Homo sapiens: one gene and its partner. The protein of the gene in region 1 purifies or fractionates together with the protein of each later gene. This does not show direct contact. Each region holds a gene or a part of one and is shown on either strand. Other genes may lie near its edges. The genes, in order: CBLL1 and ALDH18A1.

Region 1 (3,823 bases):
GGATTATAGTTATTGCAGAGAATCTTGAAGATTCTATATAGTCAGATATCCGGTCTTTGCTTTTATGACTTCTGGGTTTTGTGACATTATTTGAAAGGCCTTCCCCTATTTCACCAGTATAAAAGAGTTTTTCCATCTTACCCTTGATTACAGGTTAGCAAACTATGTCTGTGGGCCAAATGTAGCCCTGTTTTTATAAACAATTTTATTGGAACACAGCTATGCTCATTCATTTAAGTATTATCTATGGGGGCTTTCACACTATAATGGTAGAGTTGAGTAATTGTGATTGAGACCATATGGTCCACAAAGCGTAAATATTTACTATTTAGCATTTCACAGAAAAAGTTCACTGATACTGCTTTAGAACATTTATGGTTATTAAGGGGAAAAAAGGTGGGGTCTGGCTTTTTTTTTTTTCCCTCGAAACATTGTCCCAACTCTTTTCCTTGCTGAATAGGGATTTTACTGTTATCATATATATGTTAAAGCAGCAGTCCCTAATCTTTTTGGCACCAGGACTGGTTTCGTGGAAGACAGTTTTTCCACAGGTGGAGAGTGATGGCAGGGTGCGGGGAGTGGTTTCGGGATGCAACTGTTGCATTAGTTAGATTCTTGTAAGGAGCACCAACCTAGATCCCTCTCTTGCACGGTTCACAATAGGGTTTGCGTTCCTATGAGAATCTAATGAGGCTGCTGATCTGACGGGAGGCGGAGGCAGAGGTCAAGTGGTAATGCTCCCTAGCCCTTCCCTCACCTCCTGCTGTGTGGCCGCATTCCTAACAGGCCAAGGGTACTGGTCCAAGGCCTGGGAGTTGGGGACCCCTGTATTAAAAGTATTTTTTTGTATTTCTGGACTTTCTGTTCTATTCCAGCAATTTGTCTGTATTTATTTTGTAGAATCAAACTGCTTTAGTTACAACATATGTTATGGTTTCTTTTATCGTAGGGTTCCTCTGCCATCTAAACAAGTATATTTCAAGTCAAAATGTTAGAAATCGTGTTAGTAATAACCTAGGGCTGCTGTTGCACTACCTCTAATTTAGGGTCACTCCTGCTTTGGCTTTGTTTAAAAAAATAGTTTTTTAAAACAACACGTTAGTGTACAAATAATTCTTTAATAGTTCAAACAATGCAGAAAAGCCAAAATCCTTTTCTCTCCTTTCCCTCTCGGATTTTGGAGTAAAATAAGTTTGTTTTTGATTGTTGTTTTCCTAGGCATCAATCAAAATATATATAGTTTAATGATGGGAGTACAGGTGGAACTACTCTGAAAAATGATAATGTGCTCCTAATTTCCTTGGCTGTTATCTCAATAATTTTCTGGTTTGAAAAATTGAGTTTCTGCCAGGTGTGGTGGCTCACGCCTGTTTTCCCAGCACTTTGGGAGGCTGAGACGGGCGGGTCATGAGGTCAGGAGATTGAGACCATCCTGGCTAACACAGTGAAACCTCGTCTCTACTAAAAATACAAAAAATTAGCTGGGTGTGGTGGCGGGTGCCTGTAGTCCCAGCTACTCGGGAGGCCGAGGCAGGAGAATGGCATGAACCTGGGAGGTGGAGCTTGCAGTGAGCGGAGATTGCGCCACTGCACTCCAACCTGGGCGACAGAGTGAGACTCTGTCTCAAAAAAAAAAAAAAAAAAGAAAAATTAATTGAGTTTCCTTATTTTGAATTTTAGATCACACCAGCTTTTCTAAGGTGTAAATGGGTGATATAGGAGCCTAGGAACACTCAGGTGTAACTTATAAGAGCATCCTGACTTTGGATTATACATTCGTATTGGCAGTAATTAAATAGCAGTACACTGAAGTGTCTATCAGCTTCAAAAACTTCTTGCATCATTGTTTGTGTGTTAATGTGAATGTGTCTCTCTGTGTGTGTGTGTGTGTGTCTGTGTCTGTGTATAGGTGCTGTAATTTAGTCATGTGGGTAAAGTTAAAACTTGTGTGCTTGGCTACTCTGTTTACCAGTTCTAGGGCCAAAAGAGTCGTGAGAAGCCTGGCTCCTTGGAGGGATATATTTGTCTGCTCAGCTTTACTTTAGGTAATTGGATTCTACCTAGAATTCCCATCAGACTGTTGATTGGTTTTCTGTTCTTTTGTAGGAGTTGAGAAGATTGCCATCAACTTTTTAATTAGGCCAGAGAAATTGAGCCCCTTTCATCTTCATATATCTTAAGTTTATTGATATTGATAAATGCATTGTAGGAAAGGATACATGAGAATACGATATGGCTCCTGTTGTTTGGGTAATTAATCAGGGAGTGGTTTTAATTGACAGGATGAAATATGAATATGTTAAAGTGTCTAAATCACTCATTTTAGGGCTAAAGAAGAGGATAACTTGTTTGCTAATAAAATCGATAGAATGCTTTATGTTTTCATTATGCTATTGGCAATACAATCAGTCTCTTAGCATACCATTTTTGTAGCTAGACTAGAATAAATGGTGATCAATATCTTAAAAATTTGTGCAACAAGCATGATCATCAGTAAAGTTTTACATTAGAAATAGTTTCATGAATTGATAAGAGCATTTGAATGGGAGTCAAGAGATCTGAGGTCTGTTCCTGGCTTTGCCACTTATCTTCTATATGTTGAGTTATGAGTCTCCATACAGTAATATTCTCAATAATGAAGTAAAAGAGTTGGACTAGATCACCAAGATCACTTCTAACTGATGTTTTAAAGTAATCTTGATTGTCTTATTCTTAGAAAAGCTTTGAAAGGCATCAGATGAGCTTTTTAGTGAAAAGGTCTATTTTGCCATGTATATGTGCTTCCAAAATGAAATTTGAGATTTGGAAAGTTAATGGGCAATACTTTTTTTTTCTCAGAAGGATTTGATTATAATGAAGAAGAACGGTATGACTGTAAAGGGGGTGAGCTGTTTGCAAATCAGCGAAGATTTCCTGGACACCTTTTTTGGGACTTTCAGGTATAATTAAAAATGAAAAATTGTATTATAACAATAAAATATTTTAAGTATTAAATACTTAAAATGTTTTATTGGAGTAATGCACAGTACATTAAGAATATTATGAACTTATAACTATGATTTTCAGCACATACAAATCATTTGTTAATACTCTATTTTCAAGAATAATTTGAAGTAATTTTCAGTAAAATCAATAACTGTTAACACTAAGAAGAAAAACTAATGGTATCACAACTAATGGTGGGGAATAAATGGAGATTATACCAAGAGGCTTCTATTTCTAATTGTTTTAACAACTTTTATAAAATATTGACCAATTCATTGTGTAGATACAATCTTTAGAATTGTGTAAGAAGGTAATTTTAATTATATCATTTCAACAGATAAACATCTTAGGTGAAAAGGATGATACACCAGTTCATTTCTGTGACAAGTGTGGATTGCCTATTAAAATCTATGGGAGAATGGTAAGTATAATTAAATATTGTTTTTGTAAGTAAGCATTTGCATAGAGGTGGGGTTCTGAAATTTAGATAGGTTTATCATTGTTTAATGACTAAGTTTGCAAAATTTTAAATAAGTATGAAATAACTAAGGGAAGTATTGGAATACTATGAATTTAATATGATTATCTTGACAAATTGTTGAATTCTTATAAAATATTAAATAAAACTGAAAATTAGAATAATTTCTGAAAACTAATTCCTTTGGAGTGTTTGATACCAGTGAATTTACAGTTATTCTAGTTTATTAAGGAAATTTTTGTTTCTTAATAAATAGAACAAAACTGCTTATTTTTGAAGGCCACAATTTTTTACATAAAACTGCATTAATAATATTTATAATTTCTCTTTTTTTCCTGAGGCTCAGAGAGGCTTAATAGT
Region 2 (3,823 bases), on another chromosome or scaffold:
TCTCCATAAAGCTGTTATTTAAGGAAAACAACTGAAAGCACCTGGAAGTAACATTTCAGGATTCAAATGACATCTCTTAGACTCACCCACCCTGTTTTGAGTCATAAAAGCCCTTTGTCAGAACATATGGCTAATGATCTATAGCAAAAAAACATCAGAGGGACTCAAAGAAAGAGGGAAACTCATGTGCTCACATATGTAGCATTTAAAACAAAGGGCAGATAAAGGAAAAAAGCATTACTTTGTACCTTCTACATCTGAAAGAACAATCAAGAGATCAGTTTTCATTTCCACAGCCAGTCGGGCAGCCAGGCTATCATTATCTTTAACACTAATAACCTAGAATGCAGATTAAAAAGTCATAAGTGAGTGAGCTAAGCAGTCCAAAAAGAAATTCATGGAAGAACACAGCCAAGCTCAGGCAAAACCAAGCTAGGATCAGGCAAAACCAATGAACCCAAATATGTAGATGACGGCTCTTGCAGGCCCCTTCTGTCTGCAGAACACACTGTCTACTGGCAATCCTTTTTCCAAACATGCAGTCTTCTAGCCACTGAAATATACAAGCCATGCTCATCGCACCATCTTCAGTGACTATAGCACCTCACCCTGTTGAATGCAACCACGAGTTCAGAAGAGCTTATGCAGTCACTGCTCCATGACAAGTTTCTCTCACAACTTTTCCATCTTGTTTATGCCAAACTTCTGGTGTTAGTGCATGCAGCATAGCATGGTGTTAGTGTCTCCAGCATGCTAAACCCTTAGAAATACTTTACCCACATTTACCCCCTGCAGGTCACTGTTGGGCTCAGCTGGGGGGACAACAGCATCATTTGTGTTGACAATGGGGACAATGTTCATTCTAAGGAGTTCATGAAGTGTTCCATTGAGGTTCCGGCGCTTCTGCTCATCATGGAAATCCAAATTGGTCACCAAAATCTAAAAGGATTAAATAGATGGAAAATGCATGAGGGAGAAAAACGCTAAACTTCCCAGTATACAAAAGACGCTAAGAGCAGGGGAGTTAAACTTTAGGTTTCTGGGGCCCCACACAGATTAGAAGATTAGAATGAAATACACATATCTGGGTGCTATCCAATTCTTTTTTTTTTTTTTTTTTTTTTGAGACAGGGTCTCATTCTGTCGCTCAGGCCGTAATGCAGTGGCATAATGTCTGCTCACTGCAACCTCCACCTCCTGGGTTCAAGCAGTTCTCATGCCTCAGCTTTCCAAGTAGCTAGGATTACAGGCACACGCAGCTAATTTTTGTATTTTTAGTAGAGACAGGGTTTCGCCATGTTGGCCAGGCTGGTCTCAAACTCCTGGCCTCAAGTGATGGGATTACAGGTGTGATCCACTGCACCTGGCCCCAATTTTTGTAGAGATAAAAAAAATTACAATAATCTGAAAGATTTATTTAAGAATGTTCAAGACTTCTTGCAAAAGTACTTTAATCCTCAAAGAGCTACCAAATTCCAAAATCTCATCCATTTACAAAATTAAGAAAATTAATGTATCTATTTTAGAGGGATACTGGGGGAATCAGTGATTATCCATTAATTTCTTTTCTTTTTTTATAGAGAGGGTCTTACTCTGTTGTCCACGCTGGACTTGAACTCCTACTCTCAAGTGATCCTCCCACCTCAGCCTCCTGAGTAACTGGGACTAAAGATGCACACCGCTGTGCCCCAGCAATTTCTAAAATATCTCTGTATTCTAGGATCTGATTCAGGGCCTGGCCATAGTAGGCCCTTAAATATTTGGTGAGTGAGTGAAAGTGTATTAGACAAAATGGAATAGGGCTGTGTTGTCACTGCTCTTGCTCTAAAGCAGACTATTACTGGAGTTAACTAAGATTGTGTGTGAGCATGTGGGGTTAGTCTGAGAAATTTATGGAAGTTAGTCTTTGGTCACAAGCTGAAAGGGGGGCAGAACACAACTTGGTTCAAGGGAGGAGATGAGCATAAGGTGCTCAAAGGTAGAATGGAGAGCTGGTGTGTGGGCTGGTAAACAGCTCTGCTTTCTAGCTTAAATCAGAATTTTATGCAATGTTTAGGAGAAAAAGATAAATGGGTGAATGGAGATAGCAAGAAACTAAATGGCAACAAACCTTGAGGCTCAACAATAAATAATGCAATCTCTCTAATGTTTACGGAAGAGCGTTCTTGCTGTGTAGGGCAGGATGAGGTAGGGAAAGCTGGAAGCAAATAGTAAAGAAAGCAGGCACTGAAACAGTCAAAGTGAGGATGGTTAAGGGTCTGGCTATGGTAACTGAGAAGAATATAGCAATAAAACAGTAGCCTTAATGGTATATAAAACACAGGAAACATACATATAGAAAAATAATTCACTCACTCGATAAAAAATTTGTTGAGTACCTCTGAAATGCCAGAGTCTAGCTGCTGGAATGGAGAATAAGAATGTTGATGTCTTGGGGAAAAATAAAATGGAGCATATTTTTGAAAGGGAAGATCATGAACTCCTTTTCAGAAAAGCTTAGTGCTGTTGGACACAGGACTAGGTCCAAACTGAACATATAGATTCTAGTCACGATGGTGAAAGATCAAACAATTAATATAAACCCGTGTGTAGGAGAGACAAGCAGGAGATCTAAAGGTCCAGGAAAAATACCTGTCACCAAAATAGCTTCACAAACATGGCCTGGGGATCTCAGCATGAAGGTAGGAGATAAAGAGTCCCAAGAGGGAAAAGTACGTGTTTAGACAAGCGCAATCTGTTGAGGGAAAATCAGTTTCCCTTCTATGAAGAAAAAACAAGCTGTTTTAAGTGTTTAAGTCTTTAACCTGGCAAACCACCTACTGGAAATTTTCAAAAGCCACTGACAATGGTCTTCTATATAGGATTACTGAAGAAAATAAGGAACCACAGGAAAAGGTACAAAGGGCAAATATTTTCTGTAGATATGATGGCCTTGGGGGAAGACACAGGTGTGAGAGGAAAGAGCCCAGGGGTTGAAGCTTGTTGGGAACTGGAGGGGGCAGGGCTCTTCTTTCACTCAATGTAAATGGAAACAATGGCTGATGCTGCATGGACTCTTAATGCTACCATCATTCAAAACAAAATAAAACAAAAACAAACTCTCAAAAGGTTTCATCCCTGGGAAAAACCAAACCAAAGCAAAACCATAGCTCCCTGACTTGAGCTTCCTCACCTGGCTCCAGGCACTTTAAAAAAATTAAAGACCAAAGTTGTCATTGGACTGTGAAGAGAAACCAAATAATAAAGAAGAGTGATATAAATAGAGATTTATACTGTATTTATACTAACAGAAAAAAAGCTAAGACTACAGAAAGTGGGGTCCCCAGCCATAGGCAATGGGACAAGTCCGTGCCTTTCTGTTTTACCTCACTGACTTGAGGACACTCTGGTGTAATACCAGAACATCACTGTGGGTACAAACAGGCAAATGATGGAGAAACAAAAAAAAGTAACAGGAAATGAAGAAGCAAAACCTGAAACAATATATGTATATATAACAATATCACCTGTGTAAAATAACATCTGTGCATGTAGTGTACATGTAAAATAATATCCATAATATAAAATAACAGCTATTTTACATCTTTACAGGTAAAGGAATTTCAAAATAAAATAATTTGGGAGTTAGATTTTTTTTTCAGTTGTTTCCTGAAGTGACTGTTATTGAGATGTCTCTAGTGTGTAGTTGTACAGTTGATTAAGAATATAATTCAAAAAAATTCAGGAGATTTAGGTAAAAATGAAACAATGTAGAAAGAAGGTTCTAGAACATTTAGGGGTAGCCACCAAAAATTCGTAAGTCCCATGAGGACTGGAATCATGT

Evidence for each region.
Region 2: the proteins of CBLL1 (region 1) and ALDH18A1 purify together in Homo sapiens (affinity purification with mass spectrometry; one study listed by BioGRID and IntAct). This does not show direct contact.

The regions. Positions count from the first base shown.
Region 1 is NC_000007.14:107,750,573-107,754,395, forward strand, and holds part of CBLL1 (E3 ubiquitin-protein ligase Hakai), read left to right. Parts: intron 1-1,972; exon of another isoform or gene 1,973-2,045; intron 2,046-2,838; coding exon 2,839-2,939; intron 2,940-3,322; coding exon 3,323-3,406; intron 3,407-3,823. UniProt on the Homo sapiens protein: E3 ubiquitin-protein ligase that mediates ubiquitination of several tyrosine-phosphorylated Src substrates, including CDH1, CTTN and DOK1. Targets CDH1 for endocytosis and degradation.
Region 2 is NC_000010.11:95,632,711-95,636,533, forward strand, and holds part of ALDH18A1 (delta-1-pyrroline-5-carboxylate synthase), read right to left. Parts: intron 940-3,823; coding exon 781-939; intron 340-780; coding exon 249-339; intron 1-248. UniProt on the Homo sapiens protein: Bifunctional enzyme that converts glutamate to glutamate 5-semialdehyde, an intermediate in the biosynthesis of proline, ornithine and arginine.